3 separate regions of the Homo sapiens genome follow, and all the other regions are linked to region 2. The links come from fine-mapping of genetic effects on gene expression. A gene starts in region 2. Each other region holds a variant in brackets. All regions are shown on one strand. Distances are between the middles of the regions.

Region 1 (10,691 bases), 21 kb after region 2:
TTCAGCAAGCCTTAGCTCTGCTCTGAAACTCTTCTAAAGAAGCAAAAGGCTCTTAATTAGCACACACACAACAGGACAGGATTCACATGCACATGCTGCAGGAATAGTGTTTCTGCATTAACTTACAGCAGCTGTGAAATTTAAATACCACTAGCAGCAAAGACATTTTGTAAAATACCGCACTATATTTCATGAGAAATTTGCGCCCTCTTTTGGATAAAGATTGTTAAGACATTTCAATATGAACTTTTTTTTAAAAAGGCATGCAGTTTTTAAAAAATAAACAGTTTTATTGTAAGGACCGTGGGAAAGGACGAGAAAGAACAGGTGTGAGGACATTGCAAAGCCAGTATTAACAGAACTAGAAGGTGAAGATTTTGTAACTGCAACGCATAGATGGCACTATGAAGCGCCTTGAATTAGGAATCTATCGTTTTCTTTTAATCAAGATGTGTTGAGAAATTGTGACAATCATTACAAAGTAATGATTTTTAGGACCAATTTTCTCTAGAAAACAGTAGCCAAAGCTCATCTTCCTCTTGAGGCTGTAAGTTTTGTATGGTTAAGGATAAATTGTCCCTTGGATGATTTTTCTTTTTTCTTTTTTTGAGACAGAGTCTTGCTCTGTCGCCTGGGCTGGAGTGCAGTGGCGTGATCTCGGCTTACTGCAACCTCCACCTCCTGGGTTCAAGCGATTCTCTTGCCTCAGCCTCCAGAGGAGCTGGGATTGCAGGTGTATGTCACCATGCTAGCTAATTTTTGTATTTTTAGTAGAGATGGAGTTTCACCATGTGACTAGGTTGGTCTTGAACTCCTGACCTCAGGTGATCTTTCTGCTTAGATGAAGCAGATATTAAGGACTTTTTTTTTTTTCAAATTTAGGAAAATACACAAATGTATTTAAAGATATCTTGAGAGACATTTAAAACATATTCTTCATTTTTCTTCTTTAACTGACCATCTCAATAGACTTGTCTATTACAGTATCACAGTCTCTCTGTCCACCACCCATCTACTTCTCCATCCACTGCCATCTTTCCTACCTTTCCCTTTCCACTGAAACACCATAGGCAAAAGTGACAAGTGGTTTTGTGCTACCTGACTTAGTGAACAGTCCCCATTCTTTATCTTGTTTGTTTTCTCTGCACCTTTTTCATAGTTGCTCAGTTCCTTCTTTGTGAAATACTTTATTCTTTCGGCTTCCATAGCCCCATTCTTGCCTAGATTTCTCTGCCTGTTCCACGATTCGTCTCCATGTCTCCTCATGGGCTGGTATCTCCAGCATTCTGTACTTGGCACTTACCCCTTTTCACATCACAGTCTTTCCCTGAACCAACTGGTGGCTCCATAATGGGATTCCCTGACCCAGAATCAGTTCTTCTGATGTCCCATGTGCCTATGGGACATCTTCTCCTTTCTCCTGGTGGCTCGCAGGTATGGAGACCTCAATTATGTCTACAACTAAACCTCTCACCCCCACCTCCCCCGCAGCTCCCTTCTGTATTTTCTCCACTGAACCATGAACCATATTTGTTTGTCTACCCACTCAGTCTGCCAAGCAAGTTATGAGTGTTCCTGAGTCATCTTGGATGGCGCTCTTCCCTCTGTACTCCTCATCACTCAATCTTGTTGACACTCTTTCTGAACTGCCATGAGTCATTCTCACCTCTCCAGGCCCACACTACTCTTCCCAGTTTAGACCCTCATCACCTCTTCCATCCACTAGCCTGACTGGTCTTCCTGCCCCAGGGCTCACCCCTTCTAATATGACTCCCCAGCTGATTTTCCTAAAAGATAAGCCTGATTGTTTCTTTACCCCTTTAAAACCCTTCACGGGCTCCTCATTACTTGCAGAATGAAATCTGTGTATCTTATCATGACACAAAAGGTATCCTAGGATCTTCAGCCCATCACCTGCCATGCTGCACCTTGGAATACTCTGCTGGATCATAGCAAGCATGCATGGCAGTGTTCTTCCACCCAGGATGCCTTTTTTGCTTAATTAGCCTGGAGAATTCCTTTTAATTACTTTTTAAAAAAACTCTTTCCTCCCCCAATAGACCAGGCCTGAGAGTCACTCTCTCATTCTTGGTGGCGTGCTTCCATTGTTGCATTTACTGCGCAGAATTGGAGTTTGTATCCATGTCCCTGCTGAGCTGTGAGCGCTTTGAGAATAAACACAGATTCTTATTCATCCTCACTGTTGTTGTTATATTATAACCATGATTGGCTACCGTTTATTGAATGCCAGGAGAAAAAAAACCCTGAAGTTTGGAGATATTAGGAAAATTGCTCAAAGATGTATTGCCATTTAGAGGCAGAGTTATAATTTAATCCCCTTTTTTTAAATGATCCAAAACACATGTTCTTATCAAAATGATGCACTACAACTTAGAGGTTTCCTGGTAATACTCCTACTAGTAGTAGTTATTATAACTATCACTGTGAATCATGCATTATACTAAATTCTTTATATAACAATCAGTTTCTGAAGATGGAGAATTGATTTTTTTTTGAATTTTTAACGGTTTGATATAAAAAGTTATTTTTAAAAATGTAAAATAACAAAAGATATTTACTAAAGATATTCATACATTTGACAGGAGTATAGTTAAGCTTAGGTGGACCAGATGACCCACAATATCCCTTACCACATAAGATTTTATAATTCTACAAATATTTTTCCTCTTTTGATTTTAACAAATCTTTTCTTAAATTTATTTTATTAACATATCGTCCTGGCAGTAGCTTCATATGGTTATAACCATGTTTTCTTCTTCTTTTTCTTTCCTATTTGAAGGAAAAAAAAGACACCCAATGCTTTCTGTGTGTTTTCATATGTAACCTTCTACATAGCAGATGCTGCTAAATTGCTGGGGATATAATGAGAATTAAAAAGGAAATACAATTCTTTTTCTCATGGAGCTGAAAATCTAGTAGGGGAGACACACATTACCCAAACGATCCCTCAGTGACCATGTAATTATAAACTGAATCAAATGCTCTCTAATAAAGGACTACTGTACTCTGAAACTGTATAACAAAGAACGTGATCTCTGCTCTGGGTCAGGGAGCATGTCCCTGAGGAAATGGGCGGGGGCTGAGGCTTGGTGAGTGAGGCGGAATACTCAAGCCTGGTGCCGGGGAGGAGAGCCTGGCAGACAGAGCTCTGGGTAGAGTCTGGGTAGAGGGACCTGTGGTGGGAGAAAGAGAGAAGATCAGAGTGGAGGGGAGAAGCAGGGTTGGGGCCTTGAAGGTACTGCTGAGCATGTGGGTCCTTATCCTTACCCTGCATTGCCCGCAGGCCTGACCTTTGCTTCATTCTTCATGGCTGCCAAGTGAGAGTGTGGCCCCTGCAGGTAAGATCTAACTAAGTCTTGGATGTCTCTGTATCTCACCGGGTAGGCAGATAGTAAAAGCTCAATAAATACTTCCTAATTTATTTGACCTACAGGTTTTCCCCTCCACCTTCTTATACCTGTACAATTACTAGAAGAGACTCAAGATACCAGCGTGATTTATTTTTTAATGGATTGAACAAATTAGTTATTTATTATCAAATAGTCCCATTGGAAAACAATTCTGTGAAATGTATTAGGGGAGTGTTATATCTAAAGATTATTGAAAACTGGTTCTTTCTTCTAAAAATCTACTTTTGTTTTCCCCAACATTTTCTCATAAAACTTTATAAAATATATAGCAATGTTGAATTTTACAGTAAACACCCCATATATCATACCCAACACCTACATTCTACCATAAACATTTTATTTGCTTTGCTCTCTCGCTCTGTCTCTCTTCTTCCCCCTCTCCCTCCCTCTATCAATCTTTTTTTTTTTTTTGGAATATTTAAAAATAAATTGCAGGCCTCAGTACAATTTCTCCTAAATCCTTCAGCAAGCATATCACTAGCTAGATATTAATATTTAGTTTTTCTTTTGATGTAAAAATTACATACAATGAAATTTATAAATCTTAAGTGTACATTCACTAACTTTTGACAAATGCATACATCTGTGTAAATGAAACAAACACTATCTTTCTAGAAAGTTCTCTCATACTCCTTCCCAGTCGATCCCACTCCCCCCGTTTTTCTTGTGTTTTCCACAGTAGACTAGTTTTATCTATTCTAGAACTTTATCTAGATACAATCAAACAGCATGTACTCTTTTGTATAAGGCTTCTTTCAGTATGTTTTAAGACTCATCTATGTTGTTGCACATATAAGCAGTTCATGTCTTCTTTTTTTTTTTTTTTTTTTTTTGCTGAATTGAGTTCCAGTATCTGAAGCTATCACAGTTTGTTTATCCATTTTTCTGCAGATTAACATGTGAGCTATTCCCAGTTTTGGGCAAATAAAGCTGCTATGAACATTCTTGTACAAGTTTTTTTGTGAACATGTTATCATGGGTAAATATCTAGGATCAGAATTACTGGGTGGGAGGGTAAGTGTATGTTTAGTTTTATAAGAAATTACCTCACCATTTTTCAAAGTGTACTATTTTATATTCCCACTAACCATGTGTGAAACTTGCAGGTACTCTACATTCTTGCCAACGTTAGATGTTATCAGTCTCTTGTTTTAGCCATTCTTGTAGGTATTCAATGATATCTTATTGTGATTTTAATTTTTATTTCCCTGATAACTTCATGATGCTGAGCACTTTTTCATGTGCTTATTGCCCATTCAAATACCTTCTTTTGTGAAGTGCCTGTCCAAATTTTTTGCTCCTTTTCTATTGAGTTGTTTCTTTGTTTTTGTAAGAGCTGTTTCTATACCAGGCTGTTATCAGATACATTCTTAGTGAATATGTTCTCTCAGTGTATGGCTTGCCTATTTTCTCAAAGGCATCTTTTGATGAGCAGAAGTTTTAAATGTTGATGATGTCTAATGTATATAAATTTTTTTCTCTTATGGTTATTGCTTTTTTATGACCTATCTTATGAAACCTTTGCCTACCCCCAAGTCATGATGATATTCTCCTATATTTTCATTTTAAACCCTTTGCTTTTAGCTGTTTTTTATGTGGCCTATGATCCATCTCTAATTATTGTTTGTTTGGTATGAATCAGAGGTTAGATTCATTTTTCCATATGGCTCTCTGGCTACTTTAGCACCATTTGTTTAAATTCCTGTTGGACTGTTTTGGTGCCTTTGTGGAAAATCAAACACATGTGTAAGCGCAGATCTATTCCTTTATCTTTTTAAAAATGTAAATACTAGCCGGGAGCGGTGGCTTATGCCTGTAATCCCAGCACTTTGGGAGGCTGAGATGGGTGGAGATCAGGAGTTCGAGAGCAGCCTGGCCAACATAGTGAAACCCCGTCTCCACTAAAAATATCAAAAAAAAAAAAAAAAATTAGCCAGGCGTGGTGGTGGGCGCCTGTAGTCTCAGTTACTTGAGAGGGGAGGTAGAAGAATCGCTTGAACCCAGGAGGTGGAGGTTGCAATGAGCCAAGATTGCACCACTGCACTTCAGTCTGGGTGACAGAGTGAGACCCTGTCTCAAAAAAAAAGGTAATACTGAGCAATCAACATCCAAAAGTTTCCTTCTTTTAATTTAAATTTTACATCCTGTAATCTGGATAAGAGTTTAATAATGAGGATATAATGACTTTTGACCGCCTACTAGAAAAATTGATGCCCTATGGCTTCTTTAAAATATGAATCAATTTGTTTCTCTTTCAGGGATATAACTTTCATATTGCTAATCAAATGCATTGGAATCTTTACTTGAAAATTAAGTTGGCCTTGAAAATGCAAAATAAAAAATTATGTTACTGCCATTATATGCTAATTTAAAGTCTACCATATTTTGTTATTTAAGAAAGATGATCATCCAGGTGTGGTGGCTCACGCCTGGTAATCCCAGCACTATGGGAGGCTGAGGCGGGCAGATCATGAGGTCATGAGATCGAGACCATCCTGGCTAACATGGTGAAACCCCGTCTTTACTAAAAATACAAAAAATAAGCCGGGTGTGGTGGCACACGCCTGTAGTCCCAGCTACTCGGGAGACTGAGGCAGGAGAATCGCTTGAACCCGGGAGGCTGAGTGAGCCAAGATTGTGCCGCTGCACTCAGCCTGGGTGACAGAGTGAGACTCCATCTCAAAAAAAAAAAAAAAGGAAAGATGATCAGTTTCTTCTCATTGGAGTCTAATATGGTTGAAGGGCTAGAGGTGTTTCTAGGAAGGATCTTAGTATATGAACTTAGGTAAGTGAGTTTCATGTTTTATTTTTTATTTGTAAAGAAAGAAAATAATTCTTTGACTGTTCCTATTATAATAAGGTATTGTAAAGATCAGTGAATTTCAGGGCCATACTTTAGGAAAACATATGGATAAAACAATAAAAAATATAAGCACAAGGTAGTTGATAAACACAAGATGTTTTCCTTGAGTGTCTATGTAGCAGGTATTTTTCTTTGTGTAAAAGCTTGTAACCATAGCATTAACATTCTCCTTTATGAAATTTGGGATTTGATCTCTTTGCCCTAATGAAGATAGACACACAGGGTCCTTTCGATGAGTATACTCAGGCAGGGAAGG[G/A]CGAAGAGTGGTTCTAAGTCCTTCTTGGCAGCCTTTCCTGGGCTTGCCACCCCAGATGGATTTGCCTGCTCTTGAGTCCAGTAATTCAATAGCCTGTTTCCTTCCGGTAGGGGTTGCCCAACCGCTTACAACCTGCCATGAGTCTTCGTCTCATGCCACTCACAAATGTTGTGGTTTAAACACAAAGAATTTTAACATCTCTCACATCCCAAAGTAAACAGCAGTTCTGGAAATGTCACAGGGCTTTCAGTGCATGGGAAATGGATTCTGTGAGATGGATTTAAATAACTCATGGTCCACTGTGGAAACTTTTTGAAGCTGCTCCCCCTCCCCATTTCCCCCCTGTCAAAGTGATTAGGTGAATCAAGAGGAAACAAATAAAGGTGCTTGAAAAAGTGAACCTAATCACACACTTTCTGGTTGGTGTTTGTGGGCACTAAAAAGCATTATATGCATGTGGTTTGAGGTTTTAATATGTGAAATTTATTCACCTTTAATATCTTTTTTGATTTAAATATAATCAACTCAATGTTTTAAATAGTGAAAGTGACCTTCTATAATAATTATATCACATTTGACTCTAGGATAATTTACAATGTTTTCCTCACCAGAATTATTAAAAAGCAGTACCAACTGTTCACATCTAATAAGCTAGTTTCAAGGGAGAGCTATGTCCTGATAACCCAAGAAATAACAATCTTAAACCCTAAATTATTTGGGAAAAAAAAGCGAAACTGGAATATTAACTGTAACCTACTTATTTGTATAAAAATCCTGGATATGACCAGAGATTTTTGCACACTTCATGTAGACAAGTAGGGAAAGAAAAGAGATTATCAGTGTCCTACAAAAGACTTTTGGGGAATGGAAAAGGACCACTTCTGTATGAATACTACCTCATGAAGCCAAAAATAATAAGAGTTACAGGAAAGCCAGGTGACTAAATTATTCCAGCCTAGAGGCACGCTCACCTAGAAGCTAAGAATTCTACTGCAAAGGACTGAAGTTCCCAATGCCCTTGGCAGCACCAAAAAAATAACATATTAATAAGGCGAATGGTTCTTAACAATTCCTTTCAAGCCCTGTTTTCTATGTAACAGGGTACATTATTTTGAAAAAAAATGTGTTTATTCACTTTAATTAGTTAGAAATCTTACTCCTAACTAGAAGTATCCCAGAAGATCTGATGAAACACCTGCCAATCAAAGGAAAAGAAAGCACCACTAACTTACTGATTGAAGAAATAAATGGATCAACAGAGCAAAAAGAGATCTCAATAGTATCTGTTGAATTTTCTTCTGATTATTTTGAGGATTCCTTTTAAATTTAGAAATTATAGGTAAATTTATAGGTAACAGCATGCCTCCATATGATATTAAGACAAAAATTAAAAAAAAAATACTAGACATGGGCAGCAATATCTTACTGACCCCACCAGTTCTACATTAAAAACAACAACAACAACAACAAGAAAAACATTGTTCCCAGCTTTGTTTCAGAAAGAAACAAAACACCCTTGATTGGCCATCACTCAGTTATGTGTCTTGGCACCTTTTCTAACTCTCTGTAGACAACCAATTCATACTATGTTCAAGCTCTAAATATTAGTGACTGTGGTGTCTTAATGACCTACTTAACTTCTCTCTTTAACTTGGTGTTGCCAACTTATTGAATAAACTTTTTTTCTTGCCAACTACCCATTTAATAAAATGGCTCATTAATGCAGTCAGATCTCCTTCAGTGGCTTTGCCGTGGTGTCTGTACTTTTTTCTGCTGCCATGAGCTCCACACATGACATTCTCCCTTTCCTTAGCTTTACTCAATATGGCTATCAGTCTTTCAGGAGAAGGAATCATCTTGTTTATTTCTGTTTGATCTTACTTGTTGCTGATACCTTATTTGAATTTATCTTTTGGCAGATGGTTGGATCATCCATCCAGTTCTTTGCTTCCTCTAGCTGATATCCTTCTTTGCTGTACTATATGGGAAAAGCAAGAAATATTTGACACCAAAATGTATGATTCACTTATGCATTAGTCCGTTTTCACACTGCTGATAAAGACATACTCGAGACTGGGTAATTTATAAAGAAAAAGAGGTTTAATGGATTCTCAGTTCCACATGGCTGGGGAGGCCTCTCATTCATGGTGGAAGGCAAAAGGCACATCATACATGGAGGCAGGCAAGAGAGAATGAGAACCAAGTGAAAGGGGAAACCCCTTATAAAACCATCAAATCTCATGAGACTTATTCACTACCACAAGAACAGTATAGGGGAAGCCACCCCTATGATTCAATTATCTCCCACTGTGTCCCTCCCACAACACGTGGGCATTATGGGAGCCAAAATTCAAGATGAGAATTGGGTGAGGACACAGCCAAACCATATCAACTTGTATATGGTGGCATTATAGAGACAGATACAGCCAGTCACACAGGGAAAGGAAAAAGATTTGAACAAAGCCTAGAAACAACTACTTGATGTAGCCAGAAAACATGCTGTCAGATCACAGCACAGATCCTAGAATCAGGAAATCTCCAGGTTGCCACAAATCCTAGTGGTCAATGGTTCAGCATACATCCAATTCAATGATAGCAGTCGAATAGCAAAAAACTTTTCCCTACAAATGTCACACTCCTGTTAGAATGAATGGCTATAGCTGACACACTCTGCCTTTGGATGCATAGAATATTTCACCATAAGATGATATACACTCGCCACAGAGTTTTTTAATTTTGTTTATTTATTTATTTTTGTTGTTGTTGTTTTCGAGACTGAGCCTTGCTCTGTTGCTTAGGCTGGAGTGCAATGGTGCAATCTCAGCTCACTGCAGCCTCCAGCTCCCTGATTCAAGTGATTCTCCTGCCTCAGCCTCCTGAGTAGCTGGGATTACAGGCACCCACCATCATGCCCAGCTAATTTTTGTATTTTTTTTTTTTGTAGACTTGAGGTTCCACCATGTTTCCCAGGCTGGTCTTGAACTCCTGACCTCAGGTGATCCACCCGCCTCAGTCTCCCAAAGTGCTGGGATTACAGGCGTGAGCCACTGTGCCTGGCCTGTTTTTGTTTTTTCTATATCAGAATTTTAAAGAGAGAAGAAGGTGGACTTCTGGTTAAGGATGGGAGACACACACATTTGTATTTGTTTCCTCATGAAATTTTATTAAAAAGACAGTAAATGAATTTCTTAAAAATTATTGTTGAAAACCATCAAGAATAAAGAGGAAGCAAACAAGAACATAACATTCCTTTTATGAAAGTTGAAAATAGCATTCATGAACAGTAAGCTGCCTAACAGAACTGAGAGGTTTGGTCCTAAATTGGCAATAAGGAAAACCAAGAAACAACCCAAATTATATCGCAGAACTGCCACAATTAGCAGGCCCCTGGAAGCTTTGGAAGAAGGTGGCAAAAATGGGTCTAAAACAGGAGGATTTGTTGAAAGTCCAATTAGAAGTTTGACACTCATATTTCATACTCAGCTCTGTTCAATGGGGGCAAATCCTCCCTCCTCACCTGAACAGAAAGCTGGAAGTATACTCTCTGGGGTGGATGAAATTTTGGTTGTTGAACTAGGGGACACCTGTTCCAAATGAAGAAGGGAGTTTCATTATTAAAACAGTGTGATTAACTAAAAATTTTACACTAAATGCTAAGACAGCTCTCCTTTCCTTCTCGCCATGTTTATTTATTTATTTATTTATTTATTTATTTATTTGAGATGGAATTTCACTCTTATTGCCCAGGCTGGAGTGCAGTGACGCAACATTGGTTCACTGCAACCTCCACCTCCCGGTTCAAGTGATTCTCCTGCCTCAGCCTCCCGAGTAGCTGTGATTCCAGGTGCCCACCATCATGCCTGTCTAATTTTTGTATTTTTAATAGAGACGGAGTTTCACCATGTTGTCCAGGCTGGTCCCTTCTTGCCATTTTTCTACATTTGGTTCTCAAAACACAAAACATTGGCAGCCAGGCCTAAACTCCGTATACAAGAGACTGACTGTGAGATCCATCTCTAGAGAATGGACAGTTTCATAAGGAACAACTTAAAGATACTGACATTGAAGTTTCCCTAGTAAAATGGCTCATTACAAATGTCCACTGTGAGCTTCTCAGTGGACAAGTCCGTCTACAGTCTCA
Region 2 (10,691 bases):
AAAGAAGGCAATTTACAAGGACGATCATTGGCCAGATTTTCTGAAATGGAGAGCAAAGAGCAGGGGATAAACTCCCCTGCCAGCCATAAATGTAATGGAGTTGCTCGTAAGCCTGAGATTTGTAAATTCTCAGTGTTCTAAGGCTACCAGTCCTTACAACACCCACAGATTGGAGCCAAGATGATTCCAACAAACCCTTTCAGAGTTCATCTTTTGCAAAGCAGACCTCTACAGCCTTGCTTTCTAACAGTTCCTGAGGGCAAAACTTACAAGTAACACCACCAGGAGAAGTGTTAGTAAAAACCTAGTCAAGGAGGCCATTATTTTTGACAGGTCTAATTTACTGACACTGTTAATAGCTAATTAACACATTAAGGTGCTGAGGCATGAACATATTTATTTAGAAGTTCTCTGAAGTATAATTTATAGTTAGTTCTCCTGGGAGAAATGGCAAGCATTCCCACTAGCAAAAATAGATGGCATACACTAAAAACAAGCTGGCTGAAAATCATACTCAGCTGAAGTTCAAGTGGTACTTTGAAAGGAGTATGGGTTAACAATAAACAGAAATCACAAGCTCATTCAGCTGTGAAATTTTCAAATAGTAAAATACAGTGACTTTAAATTAATGAACTCTGTTGGAGGAAAGCTTCAAGGTGTTCCTTAAAAGTTAAGTGTTTTCCAAATTATGTGTACTTTATTTTCAATTGCAAATCAGCAAAAAACGAAAACATCCACTTGGTGGAGACAATTCGCTAATAGCACCTGTGCTAGTTGATGGATTTAGGGGGGAAAAAAGAATGTGCTTTTCTTTTCCTGGTAGCTTTGTGTACTTCTGCAAATCCTTTGAGAGAACAGTGGTATGGGGAGGGCAGGAACTCTGAGTTTCACCTCTGGTGCTTCTATTTACCCAAGGTATGTACTTGGTTATAGGACCTAATCTCTTTGAGGCTCAGTTCTCTCATCTGTAAAACAGGGATGGCAGCACCTCCTTCACAGGATGAATAATATGGATGTCTGCTGAGCAGTAAGAAAGTCATCAAAGCATCCCGTCATATTATAATACTACAATGGATTCTAAGCAGAAATTAGAGCTGGGTTCTTAATATGGCATAACGTTAAATCTAGACATATAGCTTTGCTAGGCCTCATTTTTCTTATAAGGAAAACAAGTGGCAATGATACCCCTAGGGGAGGGGAATCAGAGATTTCTTTATATAAGAAATTTAGGGCTGGGCGCATGGCTCATGCCTGTAATCCCAGCACTTTGAGAGGCAGAGGCGGGCAGATCACTTGAGGTCAGGAGTTCAAGACCAGCCTGGCCAACATGGTGAAACCCTGTCTCTACTAAAAATACAAAAATCAGCCAGGTGTGGCAGTGGGTGCCTGTAATCCCAGCTACTCAGGAGGCTGAGGCAGGAGAATTGCTTGAACCCGGGAGGTGGAAGTTGCAGTGAGCAGAGATCATGCCATGGCACTCTGTCCTGGGGGACAGAGTGAAACTTTGTCTCAAAAAAAAAAAGAAAAGAAATTCAGAATAATGACCTCGTCGTTTGACTCCAAGAGTTCTTCTACCTAACACAAGATAGGCAAGAGTCACGAGCCTTCTCTCTCCCTTCCTGGATTCTCTTCCCAATCTAGAGCTCATACCTGGGTTTAAGGGGAGGGCTGTTCCACTCAGGCCACCATGGCCACTTTCTCCAAAGGCAATGTCAGGACCAGCACCCACCAGATGTGGCTGACCTGGGAATGCAAGGTAGAGGACAAACAGAGGGCCCCTACCCTGGAAGCTTCCACTTGCAGGTGGGGGAATCAACTCCCCTCCACAGGAAAACACAGTTGCATGATTTAACCCTCCAAGATGTTATTCTGAGAGATACAGAAAAGTAAGTTTGTTTTGCGGTAAGAAATGCCATCTTAAGCCACAGAAGGAAAGTCATCAAAAAAACAGGCTGATAAATATGATTCTATTACAAATTTCAAAGTCCTGTGTGAGAAAAGGCATCATAAATTTAAAAGATGAACAATGGTGTGAGATTGCAACCTACATAACAAATCAAGGACTGACAAATCATCGAAACCACAAAGAAACAACAGAACCATGGGCCTAAGATATGGATGCCAATTCACAAAAGAGAAAAAAAAACGGTCAGTGAGTTTTGACCATTTTTATAACCAGTGATTTTGACCACGGCAATAAGGGAAATGCCAACTAAAATGATAAGATGGCTGGGCGCGGTGGCGCACACCTGTAATCCCGGCACTTTGGGAGGCCGAGGAGGGTGGATGACCTGAGTTCAGGAGTTCGCGATCAGCCTAACATGGTGAAACCCTGTCTCTACTAAATGCAAAAAAAATTAGCCGGGCATGGTGGCACATGCCTGTAATCCCAGCTACTTGGGAGGCTGAGACAGGAGAATCACTTGTACCTGGGAGGCGGAGGTTGCAGTCGGCTGAGATTGTGCCACTGCACTCCAGCCTAGGCAACAAGAGCAAAACTCCGTCTCAAAAAAAAAAAAAAAAAAAACTGGATTAACACAGAGTGGTGAGAATGTGGAGAAGCAGGTATTCTCATACACTGTCAGTGGAAAGTAATTTGACAGTATGAACTGAATATTAAAATGCACGTGTATTCTACTGCTCTTACGATACCATTTCTCAGTGGAATGGAGTCTACAGAAATACACACACATACAAAGAGGTGAATATAAGATTTTCAGTAAAGCACCACCAACAAAGAAAAGCTGGAAAAGGTCCAATGTCCACAATGGATCTATGGTTAACTAAGCCATTTTATGCAGTCTAATGAATATACCATGCAGCAGTTACACAGAGTCAAGTCACTTCTATTAAGTACTGACTTGGAAAAATACATTGATTTTAAAGTGTTGTACAACAGTAGGTAGTGTCATGCCATTTATGTTTTTAAAAGTCATTTTTTAGTCACATGAGCACACAGGAAGGCCATTTTGCAAGCTGGATGGCATAAAAATGTCACTCCTCTCTGTTCTCCTCCCAGCTAACCAGGACAACTATTCCTACTTCCTCTTCACTCCCGGCCCGATCTGCCCCCAAACAGGTATGGTACCACCTCCACTCTCACTGCAGACATGTAGGAGAAAACTTTATTATTCTGCACTTAATAATATTCATAGAGCATTCATTTCCTTCTCTCCCTTGTCCCCCAACTGTCCTACAGAAGGAAGCGTACCTATCTGGCACACTATCTCAGAGAACAATAGAGTTACAACAGAAGAGTGTTCAGAGGACAGTAACACATTGCTGACTATAAATCACAGGAACAAGAGAATGCCTGTTCATCTACCTGGATGCGTGCTCTACAAACCACAGGAAATTCAACGGTAATGCTGGGGAATAAACACTGTTCCGGCTGCTTATTTTACCGAACAGGACACGGACCCGGGCGCCACCCTTCTAAAACTAGATGCGTATTCCTTATACGGAGGTTCCATCAAATACCACGTTGAGCAACAGTTTGCTCTTCGTGGCAAACCCCATCTTAGAGGAATCAACTATTTTCTTTCATTTACCCAGCTATGTAAACAAAACCTGCAAGTGCGGTAATAAAAGAAAAAAACACCTCAAATCTAGAAATATGTAATGTAAATAACTCCTCTTAAGTTTCTGCCAGGATTCGTTTGCTGTAAAATCCTGGAAGCAACGGGCCTAGAACTTGAGCAATCAATGGGACCGGGCTGACATCGGCTGTTGTCTTGAAACTCAACAGAGCCAGAGTTCTGTGTGAATATCCACCAGCTGCTACCAGCATAAGGCCTGACTAACCAGAGCAACGCAGGTGAACCTCCACAAAGGAACAACCCAGGACAGCAGCAGGCACCGGGGACTCGGATGCAGAACTGGTCAGCTCCCGGCGCCACGCTCTCACGGCCCAAGATTCCCTACCCTCTGCGGACTCATCGCGGCACCGCAAGGGCTATTATTTTCCTAAAACTCGGAGGAAGTGTTTGTAGTGTTGCCTAGGCAGACAAGTTTGTAGAAGCTCTTTAAAGGGAAACAATAACAACAACAAATTCTGCAATATGTTTTCCCGCTTCCAACCTCTCAACCCCCACCCCCGCCTACTTTTAAAAGAACCAACGAAATGGCTCAAGGGAGGTCAGGACAAACGGATTTGGCTTGCAATGACACCATTTTTATCAGAACCCAGCCTTCGGGGAACGTAGGGGAGGGAGGTGGAGGAGACAAGCCCCTGCAGCATGAACTCTGGGTCCCAGCGGTCCCCAAGATATGGGGGGTGGGGGAGGGCAGCCGCTTCCTTGACTCTCAGGACCGCAAAGCTTCCCCATCCCCCGACGCCTGGGAGTCACCAACCCGGGCCTGTCTGCGTGTCCCCCCTCCCGGGGTCCCAGGCTCGAACAGGCGCCCCGCGAGACAGCCATCAGGAGAGGGCGGGCACCAGGAGCGTCCCTGGCTCCCTAAGGCCCTGTTGGGAGAGACGGGTCGGGCCTCAGAGGAGTCCAGTCTAGGGGTCCCGCTGGGGGTATTGGGGGCGAGAGGGCGCCTAGCGGGCTGGCCATCAAGGAAGGAGGGCTGAGGGCGGGGGCCGCGGGGATGCAGACCGTCCAGCGCCAGCATGGAGGGGAAGTCCTTGCAGTTGGAGACGCCCGTGGAGTCGGTAACGCACGCCTTCCACAGGTTGGCCCAATAGGTGGCGGTTGTGATGACCGTGCCGTCGATGGTAGACACCTTCCAGTAGTCGGTGGGCAGCGTGGAGGACACCAGTACCCAGCCTGAGATGGAGACCATGAAGGCGATGATCTCCGAAGCCGTGCTAGCCATGCCGCCGGCTGCAGCCGCGCTCGCTCTCCGGCTCCCACTCTGCGCCGCGACCCCCGCACTCCCAACCCCGGGGCTCCGCCTCCCGCCTCCGCCTCCGCCCACCGTCCCCGCCCACCACCCCGCCCAGCGGACCCGGCGCCAGGGGGCGCACGCGACCCCTCACACCCATGCCCTGTCCCTTGAGGGGCCTCAGAGGGCTCGCGGTCGCCCCCCGGGTTCTCCATCTGCAGCTGGCCCGCGCCCGCGTGCGGGAGGAAGGCCGGCCTGCGCTCCCCTGAGCCAAAGGGCCGCGGAGAAGGGCTCGCTTGTTGGAGCGGCTCAGGTTCAGACTGGCAACCGGGTGTGGACAACCTGCTGCGCCCCCACCTCACCACCCCCACCCAGCCCTACCCAAGGCAAATAGCTTGGCTTCCTGACTACCTTGTAGAAGCAGAGCAGGAAAAGCCTTTTGCATGCCCTGAAAGGACACGGTTTGGTAACTCAGCCCTCGGTTTGCTGAACTCTAAAGGTTTGCGTGCCACGCTTGTTTGGGTGACTCTGTTTGACTTGTCAAGGAGGGATCATTGCAGATTCTGGGCTGGAAACCGGCCTTGCCCTCAAAACTCTGCAGTTCTTTTTGGCCTGGTGCTATGCGGAAAGTCATGGCAAAACGGTGCGTGGCACAGGCCTAAAGTCAAGATAGCAGCAGATGGGGCATCCTGACGATCTTGATCTTGCTGGTGTACTCATACTAATGCACTACGCAGAGGGCATTTGTTCAACACATTTTCCCTGTAGGTCCCTTCCAGCTTCCAGGTCTAGAGGCTATTCTATGAAAGGATGCTGTTATCCCAGTCAAAACTGCTATCTTGTCTTTTATTTTTTTTTAAACCACCTCCATCTCTCACGCCTAATTGAAATATAAACTCATTCATTCCTTCATCCCTTCATTGCTGTCTCAAGGTAAACATAAAGATCAAGGTGTACTTCTGGCTCCTGAGGCCACAAATCTGGGCATAAATGAGAGAACAAGGACACGGGTTATTATTTGTCCACTTAAAGGTTCTTGCAGTTTTGTTATGAGCTTCCAGGTTTCACTTGTTGCCAAAAGTAAGGAAAGGTCTAAAACCTATCAATCAGTCTGCTGTGATAAATCTCGTGCTAACCCTCTGTGTCACTATCTTTAGGCAGAAACACTCTGGTTCAATGTGAAGAATTTCTTAATTTCCCTTTGTCACTTTTTTTTTTTAACCAAATGGGTGCCCAGTGAAATTAGAGGCGACAAGGTGACTGGAGAAGAGAGGAAGCTGGACATAGAATCATCAAAACTTAGATTGGAAGAATCACTGTAGACCAGCAGGACACGCTCCACACTCAAAACAATGTTCCTGTCTATTTCTAGAGATAATGTTTAGCCCATGCTCCACCCTTCAGGACCAGCAGTTCAGTGCATGGCAACGTATCTATTCTGTTTTTCTTCATGTTGTTTTGACAGCCCTTTAAAAAAGCTTTTCTTCCTATTGAGCCCCAAATCTGTCTCTCTTCAATGTCTACCCGAATGTTGTAATCTGTGCTCTGAGAACACGAAGTAAGTCCTACTCTTGTTGCAGCCGTGCAGCGGCTGGCAGGTAGTGGGCTTCTCTGTGCTTAATGGTCCCATGGCTTTCGTGAATGGGTACAAGGGTGACAATGCAGACATGGTTACCCTACTGTTCTGCTCTGAACCCCAGCTTGTCCTGATGTATCATGTTAGGTTCACTGGTAAACTAAACTTAAAAACTGAGTTTAAGAAGTATCTCCCTGGCTGGGCGCAGTGGCTCACACCTGTAATCCCAGCACTTTGGGAGGCCGAGGCGGGCGGATCATGAAGTCAGGAGATCGAGACTATCCTGGCTAACACGGTGAAATCCCGTCTCTACTAAAAATACAAAAAAAAAAAAAAAAAAAAAAAAAAGTATCTTCCTAACCTCTTCCTTCTCATTCTCCTTGCTATGCAAATCAGTCACCTTTGAGCAATGACTACAAAGCATCCTCTATTCTTTTGTATGGCTTGCCTTTTTAAAGTGTTTTATCATCTGTTTTTTTGCCCTCCAGCATATTTCCACTATTATTTCTATGCCATATTCCTTCCTGAATAATCTGCCTATTTCTGATCCAATTACTATTTGAAAAACACAAAACCCACTAACCATAACATTTCTTACTGATTTTTCTAAAATTACAAATTACACAAATTTAATACTTTATTTCCTGGCCTTGTTCGATAGTCCCTTTGTTTACCGTGGCTCGCCTATGGTAGATACTCACTAAATTGATTATTTCTTTGTTTTTACTAGACAAAACCCTGACTTACTTTTGCCACAAAACAAGTGTAGTGCTGTGACCTTTAAGACTCAAGCACTTCCTAATTTATCACCTAGTTGCTATGAAGTCCACTGTTTGGATCCAAAGGCACATTGTTTGTTTTAAAGAAAGAACTTTGAAGAATGGTTTGGTGTTTTAAACCAGTCTGCAAAGTTTATTTAACACATAATGTAGCTCTACCCATTATACTTCAAAAATCCATAAGCCCAGATTACCGTTGCAACATAGCATCCGGAAGAAACAAATTCTGAATTCCTGCTTGGAACACTCTTCTCTCTGCCGCATCGCCACACCAGTGAAGCCAGAATCTCTGGGGGTGGCCTTGGTAGCAGTATTTCCAAAACTTCTAATGTGGACTCAGGCTGAGAACCACAGCTCTGACCAGTTGAGCTCTGTGTATGTGTGTATAAACAGTTAATTTAGCATAACGGATGGTGGTATGCATCACAGGAAGAAAGAATATTAAACTCATTGTTGAATACTTTGAAAAAAGAAATATTCTATTACTGTAGAGATTGCAACACACAATTTCAACTTAAAAGGGATGGGAAACACCACAAACAATCCATAAATTAAAACTTAAATGGCAGCATTATTAGTTCCTTTGGCAGCTAAAACAGACTAGGGTCGTCATGCCTGTGGACTTGGTTAATTTTCCTTTCTCCTTTCTATGAGGTTGGACAACCCTAAACTCTTTTCTTTATCTTCCCTAGGATGTACTACATAGTTACTGTGGAAAGCTGTATGTTGGAGGCCATGAGTTCCTGACCAAAGAATGAAAAATGTTAACTTTCTTTAATACCTAGATAATATTATGTAATGAATCAAACATTTTTATTTTAGAATGTCTTATATCTTATGCTTCTCAAGCTAGTTTTGTCAGGAGAATTCTAAAGATATTATGGAGTAGCATATAATCTAAAAAAAGAATGTCCAGAAAATAAAAATGGACCAAATAGAGATTTTTGAAAAGAAGTAATGGATAAATGTCTTGTTTTGCTTTAAGATTATACAGTTCCCAAATAACCTTTGCAGTTAATCTGCAAGCCGATTTACAGAGTACTTTCGACTGATAAATGCTTCCTTATTTTCTTTAGGATTCAGTTCACTGAAATTTCATAAGAGACTATTCTTAATTTAAATATAAAAGTGAATACATCAAAAAAGGTTGCCTCCTCTAAATTATTCAAAGTAACATCTTAGTTAACAATAGTTTAGTCTTTACAAAAAGCTATAGATCTTTTCCAATATGAAAACTACTAACTGATCTATAAATTTGACCCGAAGACATACAATGCCCTCAAACATATTCTGAGCCTTTCTACTTTTGAGGTCTAAGTCACTGGAATTAGCATTGAAAATTATTTCTTTGGCTTATTATGGTTATTAAAGAGAAATAGAGGATCCCCCCCACCCTGGGGTTGTTCAATAGGAGTGAAAACCAGTTTAGCCAACTAAACAGGAGATTTGCAGAAATTCCTTACTTGAGATTCAGTACACCTACCAAGCAACGCAGGTGTGCCTTTCAATAGCTCAAGGATTTTCTAAGCATCAGATTTGGTTTCAGTATACATTAGCTCCTTCCTAGATTCCAGTGAGGTGGCGTGCTGCTAATCAGGTGGGAAGAAACTGAATTCCTGATGATACGGTATTAACTAAAAAAAACAACTGCCCAGGAGCCAAGTATTGTTACATCACATTAAAGAAGACATTAATGCCGGTACCAAGATATTAAAAGAGCATATCTGTGTTCTTTTTCCTTCCATTTTCCCTAACATTTCATTTATCTTAATGCTTATGCAAATCCAATGATATTTGTAATCTACTTAGCATGAAAGCTACAGAGTGATAGGAATAGTTACAGAATGAACAGTTATTCTCACCATTGCATCACCATTCATATATAAATATATATCTATAATTTTTTTTGCAAATTATAACTATAAAAACAGTTGCCTTATTCTGTCATTTGGCAACCTGTGAAGTTGTACTCCATCAGAATATTTCTATGGGCCTATTACAAGTCAGTGCCATATACCTTGTGGATTTGTTTTTCATGCATTCATTTGAAACACACTCATTCCCAATTCTAAATTATCTTAGTAGACTCCTCTTGAGCCCCTGAAGGGGAGGGGTAAGGTTTGGGCCCCAGCAGGAATACCCTTCGAGCCTGGAATTACTCTCACTCTGTGATGCTAGAACATTCCAGGGCTTGTAGACAGGTTGGGTACATTTTGTTTGTCCATAAGCACTTGATGAATATCAATATAACCTCCCACCCAGGTCGGGGCAGTATGTTAATTTATATGTTTTGGGCAAGTGATTTTATGTCTCTGAGTTACAGCTCCCTCATTTGTAAAACAGAGGAGTTATTCTGGATATCTTCCGAGACCACTTTCAACTCCAAAAACCCCTGAGTCTAGGATTCCTAATGAACTTAGTCATTCACAGATAACATCAAGGAGAGGAGAGTAGCAGTTTTCCTTTGGTGTCTTTACTGTTTTATTCCCACTTTCTGCCTCCCTCCTTTGTTAAATTTAAAGGTGGCGTCTGTATAGATGTGTATGTGAGAGGCAGTGCATGGAGAAAATCTAAAATCTCTACATGTAGACTTATTGTCACTTATTCCTTCTGTTTAGGAGAAATGTGATAAGGCATGGTACTTTCATTCACTTAAGAGTCAGGGAGATATAGCGGACAGAGGGTAGATGATGTAATCAGAAAGATGTGAGATAAAATTCTACCTCTGAATGACCTTGGACAGGTCACCTAATCTCACTCAGCATCACTTCTTCAAGTATAACGTGGGACTAAATGACAGCTTCTTTCAAAGGCGTTGTGAAGAATAGAGACAATGTATATGAAGGACAGGAATGTAGTGGATGCTTAGTAAATAATGAATATTATTCAGTTCATTCATGCCTCTCATTTCCTTGTGTCTCTTTAAAGAGATACAATTACATTTTTTCATAAAAATGGTATTAATCGGTTAGGCTAACAGCAGTAAGTGAATAAGGCTGAAGTGTATTGCAAATCTCAAAGTAGGAAAGCAGAAAGTGTGGAGTCGAATGCCAACATGGAAGGGGCTGGTGCCCAGAGTGAGGGCAGAGGGAGGGAAACCAGGAAGTCAGAGCAGAGGATAGTCCCGGGGAGCAAAAGTGGTTGGGAGTGAGGCGCTTGCAAAGGAAAGTGAGAAATAAAACTGGAGGACAGTTAAATTTAAAAGGGTGAACAGCTGGGTGCCTGTAATCTCTCCCAGCCCCTCCAGAGGCTGAGGCAGCAAGATCACTTGAGCCTAGGAGTTCCAGACCAGCCTGAGTAACATAGGGAGAGTCCCCATCTCTTAAAAAAAAAAAAAAAAAAAGTTAGCCAGCCGCCTGTAGTCCCAGCTCTTTGGGAGCATGAGCTAGGAGTTCAAGACCAGCCTGCCTGTCTCTAAAAAAGTAAAAATAAATGAAAGAAGTGACCAATGATAAGGCAGAGAGAGTAAGGGGAACAGAAACTGCAAAGAGAAAAGCAAGGGGCAA
Region 3 (10,691 bases), 72 kb after region 2:
TCTGGAGGAAATAGAGTGAGGAAAAACATACAGCTGAGTATGCCAAAAACACAAGTTGTCCAGTGAATGTGTGTAAACTCAGGCTGAAATTTAGCAGGGATGATGAGAAAGGAGATATGGATTAGGCCTGATTAGGAATGCCCTGATGTGCCATTCTAGGGAATCTGGAGTGGGCCCGGGCTTGAAAACCAGCAGTGATGAATGGTAGAATTCTGTTTGGCCAGATCAGATTTGAAAATAATTTTGAATACCTTTGGATAGGAAATTCAGCTCCAATGACTCATAGACCTGTGGTGTAAGGCCTGAAATTAAGATTCAAAACTAAGTGCTGCCTTGACCATGGAGGCTGGTAAAATCAGGGTACAGAGGCTCAAATGGATTAACTGCAAGTTCTCCTCCCACTCTGCTCCTGGTGGATAAAGTCCTCTAGCCAAGCAACCCTCCTTATCAAAGGGACCAGGCGCAGTGCTAGGCTTCAGGTCCCCGTCAGCCTGTAGAATTATCCAAGCAAACCAAACACATCCTCTTACAGGAACCAGGGGCACCTCGCCCTCTTGTTACTACAAAGCCTGCCTCCCACAGCTTCCTGGTGGTTCACTCTGTTCCCAGCTGCAACCCCCACGTGGCTCTCTGTGGGGCAGTGTCGTCCTTCCCTGGGCCATGAGCATATGTGACTAATTACCTGCTGCCCATCTCATCTGTCTAGGCTTGGATGTTGTACATTCAACCATCCTCTCAACTCTAGGGCGGAATCCCTCCCTCACCAGTGGGGTGAAGTGGAGGCAAACTAAATCAAACTAAATAAGACCCCATCATACCATGTTGTATTGCACTCTGCTTCTTTTTTTTTTTTTTTTTTTTTTTTTTTTTTGAGACAGGGTCTCACTTTGTTACCCAGGCTGGAGTGCAGTGGCACAATCTTGGCTCATTCCAACCTCCACCTCCTGGGTCCAAGCGATTCTTGTGCCTCAGCCTCCCGAGTAGCTGGAACTACAGGTGCTTGCCACCACACCTGGCTAATTTTTGTGGGTTTTTTTTTTTTTTTTTTGTATTTTTAGTAGAGACGGGGTTTCGCCATGTTGGCCAGGCTGGTCTTGAACTCCTGACCTCAAGTGATCTGCCCACCTTGGCCTCCCAATGTGCTGGGATTACAGGCGTGAGCCACCACACCTGGCCTCATCCTGCTTCTTTACACACTTACATTTCCTGCATAACTGAAAAAACTTGACCTTGTAACACCTCTTTTCAGGGGAATGACATATAAAATTATTCATAATGACAGACTATGAAATATTTTACCAATATTTTCCTTTAAGAAAGATTAGGGAAGTAGTGTTTAGGATAGATTCTACATGGAACAAATTAGAAGTAGAAAGACCAGTCAAGAAGTATCTGAACAGAATGATAGCCGAGTGGTGTGCAGTGGATACTGTGATATGCTGCCCAGAAAGGACAGTGAAGGACATCAGGCCCCAGCTGCTAGAAGTGCTGCTGCAGTCAGCCTGTAGCTCTTAGCCCTCTCAGAAAGTGACTGAGCTGCAGAGAGCTGCCTCACCCAAGGACATGCCCTATCTTTGTCCTTTTGGGCTGCTATCCTACCAGAGACTAAGTAGTTCAAAAACAACAGAAATGTATTTCTCACAATTCTAGAGGCTGGGAAGGCCAAAGTCAAGGCACCAGCAAATTTGATGCCTGGTGAGGGTTGGCTTCCTAACTGATAGAGAATGTCTTCTTACTGTATCCTCATGTGGTGGAAGGGATAAGGGAGGGACCTCTCTGGGGTGTCTTCTATAAGGGCACTAATCCCATCCCGAGGGCTCCATCCTTGTGACCTAATCACCTCCCAAAGGCCCCACATCCCAATACCATCACCTTGGGGGTTAGCATTTTAACATACGAGTTTTGGAGGGACACAAATATTCAGACCATAGCACACTCATGCCTGGGGAAGCTCATATCGAGTGACCAATGGATGGTGGAGCATAAGGGCTTGGCCAGCTCAGCCATGCTTGGCATGTTTCTAAAAGTCCACCTAACTCCAGAGCTCTTGGTGAGGTTTGCTGAGACTGTCAGCCTTGGGTTGTAGCTCAACGTCACTGCTCTGCCCACTCCTGCTTCTGTCCCCTACCTTCCACAGGTGTGGTCCCTCCCACAGGCACGCCTTCATGAAATGCCTCTTTAGAGTCTGGTTTCTGGGGATACAACCTGTGATGCTTAAAAAATTAAGAGGCCGGGCACAGTGGGTCATGCCTATAATCCTAGCACTTTGGGAGGCCAAAGCAGGAGGATTGCTTGAGCTCAGTAGTTGAAGACCAGCCTGGGCAACATAGTGAGACCATGTCTCTACAAAAAATTTTAATAAAAAAGAAAGAAAAAAAATTAGAGATGAGAAATGAGGGGAGGAGAGGGAAATTGAGAAATAAGCTTAGATAATTTTCACCCTAAGGGTAAATCTCCCAAATAATGTTTCCCCATCTTCTCAGAGAGCCCACAGTCTGAACGAGGAGAAAGCTGTTCAATGAAAAATCAATAAGTAGTCAGGTGAATCCTCCAGGAATCTGCACAGAGTGGCAGTGCCACACCTTTTACATAAACCAACCTCCTCACTCTCCCCTCCTCAGCAGCTCCCAGGCCTGAGGACGGGCAGCGTCACTTTCTCCCAAGAACGATGGAGAATCATTTCTCACCAGTAAGAATGTTGGCCTCACATTAAATTCGTGATGTTTAATGGGCTTATTTATGTATTTATTTATTTTTGAAATGGAGTTTCGCTCTTGTTGCCCAGGCTGGAGTACAGTGGCACGATCTTGGCTCATTGCAACCTCTGCCTCCTGGGTTCAAGAGATTCTCCTGTCTTAGCCTCCGGAGTAGCTGGGATTACAGGCACACGCCACCATGCCAAGCTAATTTTTTGTATTTTTAGTAGAGATGGGGGTTTCACCATGTTGGCCAGGGTGGTCTCAAACTCCTGACCTCAGGTGATCCACCCACCTCAGCCTCCCAAAGTGCTGGGATTACAGGCGTGAGCCACCGCGCCCAGCCAGTTTATTCATTTATACTTCAATCAGGATTAAGTACATCATGAGAATAAAACAATCCAGATGGTTCTGAGACTGAATCTGAGCTCCTGGGTAACACAGCAGGGTGGATCTGGACTAGACTTCCTGCCCTGGATCAGCAAGATTGGTCTCATAGGTGTGCACTGAAGGCAGCCCGAGAAGGTGTGATTTGATGGGCACCTAGAAGACCCATCTATCCCCAAAAGACATGACTCAGTGAGGCTCTAGACCCTTTCTGCCACAGCAGCTTCATGTGGGCTTTGTAGATCAGCACAGCTCTTAGACCCAGCTGTGCACGGCGCCTGACTTGGGCCATATATATTAGAGAAGGGGTCAACAAACTACAGACTTTGGGCCAAATCTAACCTCCCCATCCAGACCTGTTTCTGTATAGCCTATGTAAAAAATGTTTTTTACATTTTAAAAATCTTTTGTAAATTTTTAAATTTGTAATTGTTGTGGGTACATAGTAGGTGTATATATTTATGGGGTACATGGGACGTTTTGATACAGGCATGCGATGTGAAATAAGCACATCATGTAACATGGGGTATCCATCCCCTCAAGCATTTATCCTTAGTGTTACAAACAATCCAATTATACTCTTTTATTTTTACATGTACAATTAAGTTACGTTATGATTGAGTTTTTACTTTTTTGAGTCAGAGTCTCACTCTGTCGCCCAGGCTGGAGTGTAGTGGTGCGATCTTTGCTCATTGCAACCTCCGCCTCCTGGGTTCAAGTGATCCTCCTGCCTCAGCCTCCCAAGTTACTGGGATTACAGACATGCACCACCACACCCAGCTAATTTTGTATTTTTAGTAGAGATGGGGTTTTGCCATGTTGCTCAGGCTGGTCTCCAACTCCTGATCTCAGGTGATCCACTCACTTCGGCTTCCCAAAATGCTGGGATTACAGGCGTGAGCTACTGTGCCTGATCGAGTTTTTACATTTTTAAATAATGGAAAGAACCCAAAAGAAGAATATTTTGCAACATAGGAAGATTATCTGAAATTCAAATTTCAGTGTTCACAAATGAAGTTTTCCTGGAACACAGCCATGCTCATTCTCTTAAATATCATCTGTGGCTGTTCTCATGCCCAACAGCAGAGTTGAATAATTGCCACAGAAACCACATGGCCCTCAGAGACTAAAAGTTTACTACCTGGTACTGACCCCTGCTTTACAGCTTTGCTGCTTCATTCTGTGGTCTGAAGACCAGCCTCACCAGCTTTACCTGGGAGGCTGTTAGAAACGCAGAATCTTGGTCCCTGCCCTAGACCTACTGATTCAGATCCCAGGAAATTTCTATTCCCATGAATGTTGGAGAAATGTCAGCTTAGAGGGTTCTGCCCCGGCCATCCTCTGCTGCCCTTCCCCTCAGTGCAGGCAAGGTCCGCACTGAGTCACAGATTTAACATTATAGTTAGTCATAAATGTTTTAAAATTATGAGTCTGCAAGGTCAAGGGCATGCGTCCTCCTGGAAACTCTTCCCCATCTAGGCCATGCTCTGAGTGCCTGGGAATTTTCTGCCTCCAGGGTCAATGCCAGCTTCCTCTCTGGGGTCCATTCTAGCCCAATAGGTGGTCAAGATGCAGCTGTTACAGGGTGGACGGAGAGTGCCTGTGCTTGAATTTATGGATGGTGTGTCCTCTTGCTCAAGAAGCAAGTTCCTCATGGCATAAAGTGGGAAGACAAAGGGGAAGGATGGCAGCTGGGGGTTAGCTCTTGCTGTCCCATTACCTTCTGGCTTGGGCTATAGAGCCCAGGAATTCTAGCCTGCCATGTAGTTATGTATATATATTTGACAGTTTATTCACTTGATAGATAACTTCTAAGTATTTCAACATAGCTTATGGGCCTTCATTGGTACTCTTGAATGTGAATAGCGTGTCTATTGAATATTTCTCAACGTGTGTTCTGAGGACCCCATGCAGCAGAATTCACGTGGGTTGTTTGCTTAAAATGCAAATTCCTGGGTCCCGTTTTTGATTATCCTGAATCAGAATTTTTGAGGGTGGAGCCAAGGGATCTGCATTCTAACAAGTTTCCCAGTGGTTCTGGTTCACACCAGAGTTTTAGGAACTCTTGAAACTGGGGTAGGGTGGACAGGAGCTGGCTCCCAGTGGGCAGGAGCTTCAGGGGAGAAGAAAAGGAACCAGCCAGCTCAGGGGACCACAATGGCTGCCAGCTTCAGACGCTTCCTATTTCTCTCATTATCTCTCTTCCGCATCTGGCCTGAGCCCAGCTCTGGGTGTGAGCTGTGGAGAGAGGTTTTCTGCCAGGATTGGGCAAGGGCATTCTCCTCTAATACAGGGCCTTCAGAGACTGCTCTACCGAAG[GAAGT/T]GTCTGAGTCAATGTGAAACTGGAAAGAAGAGAGATATGGTTTGGCTGTGACCCCACTCAAATCTCATTTTGAATTATAGCTCCTACAATTCCCATGTGTCGTGGGAGGGACCCGGTGGGAGGTAATTGAATCATGGGGGCGGGTCATTCCCATGCTGTTTTTGTGATCGTGAGTCTCACAAGATCTGATGGTTCTATAAGAAGGAGCTCCCCCGCACAAGTTTTCTCTTCCCTGCCACCATGTAGGATGTGACGTTCCTCCTTCACCTTCCACCATGATTGTGAGGCCTCCCTAGCCATGTGGAACTGTGAGTCCATTAAACCTCCTTCCTTTATAAATTCCCCAGTCTTGGGTATGTCTTTATTAGCAGTGTGAAGATGGACTAATACAAAGAGGAACTAGGGGAGCTTGGAGGAACCAGAGACTCAATCAGGGATTCAAGTGAAGTCTCTGTTGCAAACCCTTGAGCAGGTGAGAACCCCTGGACTCTTGCAGGGGATGTGGGAGGAGCTGTACATACAGACAGTGCTGTCCAGCCAATGTGGGTTCAAACCCTGCATCTGTCACTGGCTATGTGACCTTGATCAAGTTCCTTAAGGTCTCCAGGTTTGTTTTCTTATCTGTAAGATGAGAATCCTCTTCTGCAAACCATGTCTGTTTAAAATATGTGCTTATTTTGAAAGTGATGTAGCAACATTTTCTCTAGTTAATGTTCTTTCTCCCTCATAATTTTAAAACATTTATTCATGACTATAATGTTAAGTCTGTGACTTTATTTTTGCTAAATGTCCATCTCAGAGAAGAATATGACTTTATATAGCGAAGTATTTTTTAAAAAATAGCCTTAGTAATGCATATTTGCAATAAAAATATTTGACAATCCTAATACCTTCAGGCTTGTCATTGGAATGAAATGTGATAATTAAGTAAAACCCATTCTTGCTACAAAGATTTAAGTGGTGGCCACTTTTTTTCCCCCCGAGATGGAGTCTTGCTCTGTCACCCAGACTGGAGTGCAGTGGTGTGATCTCAGGTCACTGCAACCTCTGCCTCCCAGGTTCAAGCAATTTTCCCTGCCTCAGCCTCCCAAGTAGTTGGGATTACAGGCACCCGCCACCACACCCGGCTAATTTTTATATTTTTAGTAGAGATACGGTTTCACCATGTTGACCAGGCTGTTCTTGAACTCCTGACCTCGTGATCTGCCTGCCTCGGCCTCCCAAAGTGCTGGGATTACAGGCATGAGCCACTGCACCCGGCCGGTGGCCACTATTTATTAGGAAGCTTGTTATCTTCTACCACTGCACCTGCTGATGATTGCTCTCACAGGCACTTAACCACTGGCTAATAAAATGAAAGTTCCTTAAACCTTACGCACAGGAAGCCACTTAGGCTGCAGTTGCAGCCCTGTGCCAGGGCAGTGCTTGGCCAGTGACCTATAACTCCCTGAGGCTCCTTGTGAGGGAGCAACTCCTGAAGTCACATGGCGAAGATGCTCACAGGACATGATTCTTAGGATGATCCCACCTGTCGAGACCACAGGCTGTAACTCACTGTCACAAGTTAGTGATGAACGCGGAACCTTAATGAAACCGCCAGCGACAGCTGTGCCATACTGCAAGTCACCACTAGGGGGAAGCAGAATACAAGCATCCGGGTAAGAACCAACGAAGCGCTGAGGAACGTGGCCCAGGAAGCCAAATGGGGATGGGAGGGGAGAAGGATCCTAGGCGCACCCTCCCTGTTCACCCCACCCACCGGGCAGACCTGCACACTCCTGGTCTTGCTCTCAAACCATCTGATTCCTCTGTTTCTCTGTTCTCTGGTCCTGGTACAGCACATTATATCTTCCGTATGGCAAAGGCCAGTGGTTCTCTAACATGGCTGTATGTTTAAATCACCTGGGGAGTTCTGTAAACGCTCTACATCCTGGCCTTATCTCAATTAAATCTGAATCTCCAGTGTTTGGAAGCAGGGATCAGTGCTTTTTATATTTATTTATTTACTTGCTTATTTATTTTTGAGACAGAGTCTCACTCTGTTGTCCAGGCTGGAGTGCAGTGGTGCGATCTTGGCTCACTGCAACCTCAGCTCCCTGGGCTCAAGCGATTCTCATGCCTCAGCCTCCCAAGTAGCTGGGACTACAGGCATGCACCACCATGTCCAGCTATTTTTTTTTTCTATTTTAGTTGATATGGTGTTTTGCCATGTTGGCCAGGCTGGTCTTGAACTTCTGACTCAAGTGATCTGCCAGCCTCAGCCTCCCAAAGTGCTGGAATTATAGGCATGAGCCACTGTGCCTGGCCTCCAGAGCTTTTTAAAACACAACAGGTGATTCCAATTTGCAGCCAATTTTGAGAACCACTGTTTTAGGCAAAAGATCTCATTTCTTTTCACATGAAAGCTGGCTTTCATTGTTAGAGGACTCCTCCAAGAAGCCTCCCTAACGAACCACACGTTTTCCTCCTCCTCCTCCATCTGTCCACGGGCCTGTCTGCAGCTGATGCCAGTACTTATCATGGCTTAAGATACATATGGGTTACCTGAGGGTGTTGCAGATTCAGATTCGTTCAGTCTGGGGTGAGGGGTTGAGACGCTGCCTCTCTAAGTCCCAGGTGCTGCTGGTCCACAGACCATCCACAGTAGGGTTGGCAGGACATCAACCTGTGTTTCCGCATGTGCACCTTTGCAGTTGTTCTCTGTTTTGCATTCCTTTTCTGCTTCTGTATTAACCATGTTTCTCCTTTCTGTAAACCTGATGCTTTAACATCTGCCCCGCGTGCATCTGCAGGACACACCTTGCTCTGTGCAACCCAATAATATGTCTCCCTCACTGTCCCCCTCCCCCTGGAAGGAGTCCTCCGGGTGATATGCTTTTCAAATGAAAACCAACCCAGAGCTCGCATCCCAACCAATTCCCTTATCTGGCTCTCACACTCCAGGCCACTATCCCCCTGCCCTAATCACCCAGGACCAGGTATCTGACAAATAGGAACAGCCTGTATGCCCCAGAGCCTGCTGAAATGATTTAAACTAGCCAGTCCTGAGCTAGCTAACCCTGCCTTGCCCACTCTTTCCTGTGGAAACCATAATAAGGGCTCTGGCCACGTTCTCTTCTCCCTCTGCCTCTTGACCAGCCCTCGTGCTGCCCCGGGTGTCCCTGCATGGCGTGGCGTGCCCACTTCTCTTAGATCTGAGAGTAAGAAACTCTCTCTTCAGTGAGAGTCATCATCTGATCTATTGGCCTCACCAAAGCTGAATAAAATTAAAACCTATTAGAGCAACTCCCCTGCTAGGAGGAGAGGCGTGGCTGGTTCCCAACTTGTCTGCATCCCGCCTCTCCTCCCAGTCTTGCTTGGGTCCCTGCTATGCTGCTCATGGTATGAACACAAGACCCTGTACACACACAGAAAAGAGCACAATCAGTGACTGTTGAATGAATAAGTGAACAAATGTAGGGAGAAAAATTCTGAACTTGGAGACCTGGCTCTGCCACTAACAGCTGTGAGAGATTGTGAAGGTGCCCCCGAGACTCAGTGACTTCATCTGTCCTGTTATTTCATAGTGAGGCCACCTGAGCAATATGTGTTAAAGCCCCTTTTCATCCACATGGTAGCATCCTCCTTTCTCTCTCCATCTCCTACTTGTCACTGGTGTTCAGGGTTCCAGCCTTGCCCTTCACACACTGCCTGGGAGGTCCCATCTGTTTCTGAGTCTTTGAATCTTCACCCACAGCTGCTATGGTCTGAATATCTGTGTCCCTCCAAAATTCACACGTTGAAATCCAAATGCCCAAGGTGATGGCGTTGGGAGGTGGGGCCTTCGGGAGGTGATTAGATCTTGAGGGTGGAGCCCCCATTAATGGGATTAGTGCCCTTATACAGAAGGCTCCGGAGAGCTGCCTCACTTCTGCCACCACGTGAGGACACAGAGAGAAGACTCACCTGTGAATCAGAAAGCAGCCCTCACCGGACACCAAATCCATCAGCACCTTGACCTTGGACTTACTTCCCACCCTCCAGAACCGTGGGAAATACATTTCTGTTGTCTATGAGTTACCCGATCTAAGGCATTTTGTTATAGCAGCCTGAACAGACTAAGACACCAGCTCAGGCTCCCCTCTTGAGCTCCACACACGTCTAACCAAATGCCGACAATCCATCTCTATCCTGTCAACCTGCCTGTAAGTCATATTTGACACATTCAAAATCGAGTTTATCATGCCTTTGCGCCTCCCAAACCAGCTCCTCCCCTCATATGTCCTATCACCACAAGTGCCCAGAAGGGGAGTGGCACACGGAAGGAAGCAATCTGGGCGATGGGGGTGGAATTAGATGGCAGAGATTTGTGACAAGCATAGAAGACCACCCAGCACGCTCAGGGGCAGCATCAATCATAAGTCACATCACAGCAGAGCCATGGTGCTCATCACAGCAGAGCCATGGTGCTCAAGTCCCGACAGGGAGAGAGGGTGAGGGAGAGAGAGAGAGAGAGGGAAAGAGGGAGAGAGAGGGACAGAGAGAGACAGAGAGAGAGAGAGAGATGCAGGGACCCTCGACCCATGCAGGTGGGCTTGGGATCATGAGAGCACATGAGGATAGACCCCAGGCTGGCTTCACTGAGACGCCACCCAGAGAAAGGCAGCTGGAGGATGAGGTGGGAATGGAGCCCTTGCCACCTTCCTGGAGCTCCAAGCCAGTCACCCTCACCAGGGGCCCAGAGGCCATTGGGGCAAACAGCACTGAAACTCTTTCAAACCCTGCTGGCCACTTCCCTCCCTTGGGGAGCAGCAGAGAAGCCCACTGGTGGCCAGTGCTCAGTCAGCACAGCTGAGGTGGGCTGGCAAAACTCCTGGCTCTCTCTGTCTCCGAGAATTGGCTGGGGCATCTGATGGTGGTTGCAGAGCCTCATCTCCCCTCTCTTGAACTTAGCGGAGATCAGGCTCAGCAGATCTGCCCAGGTCCCCAGGAGGCCGGGCTGGTTACAGTCTCTGGGGACCAGGTGCTCCCCTTTTGAACCAAGGTTATTTCTCCCAACCAGGGAGCTTCCATAATCACAGGGATGTCCCCTGACCCCATCCCTACAAATATGTAGAGTGCAAGGGAGCAGGCAGCAGGGGGCAGGGGTGGGCTCTTAATCCCTGGCAGGGAGCTGCTGCCGTCTGATCCTCTGATCCGAGTTGTGGGACAGCACTGGGTGTGTGCTCCTACTTCCTGGCTTATAGGTTTCCTCCTCTGTGTGGCACCAGCATGTGTGTCCTTGACTCCTTAGCAGAGAGGAGCCA

What was found.
Region 1: its variant is fine-mapped to the expression of CLDN10 in whole blood (TOPMed, PIP 0.97).
Region 3: its variant is fine-mapped to the expression of CLDN10 in whole blood (TOPMed, PIP above 0.99).

Annotation. Positions count from the first base shown.
Region 1 is chr13:95,526,366-95,537,056 of GRCh38, reverse strand. It overlaps CLDN10-AS1 (CLDN10 antisense RNA 1), which reads left to right and starts at 3,147. Exons shown (of 4, transcript NR_046533.1): 1 at 3,147-3,359; 2 at 8,470-8,565. It also overlaps a transcript of CLDN10 not described here. RefSeq lists an enhancer at 1,468-1,762. The variant G/A (reference allele first, on the strand shown) is at 6,551.
Region 2 is chr13:95,546,884-95,557,574 of GRCh38, reverse strand. It overlaps CLDN10 (claudin 10), which reads right to left and starts at 4,855. Exons shown (of 5, transcript NM_006984.5): 1 at 4,602-4,855. The coding sequence starts at 4,821.
Region 3 is chr13:95,475,046-95,485,736 of GRCh38, reverse strand. CLDN10-AS1 (CLDN10 antisense RNA 1) reads left to right here. Exons shown (of 4, transcript NR_046533.1): 4 at 5,775-6,293. It also overlaps a transcript of CLDN10 not described here. Among named protein-coding and RNA genes, the nearest start is that of CLDN10-AS1, 54 kb to the left of the region's middle. RefSeq lists enhancers at 5,352-5,431, 6,770-7,129. The variant GAAGT/T (reference allele first, on the strand shown) is at 5,403.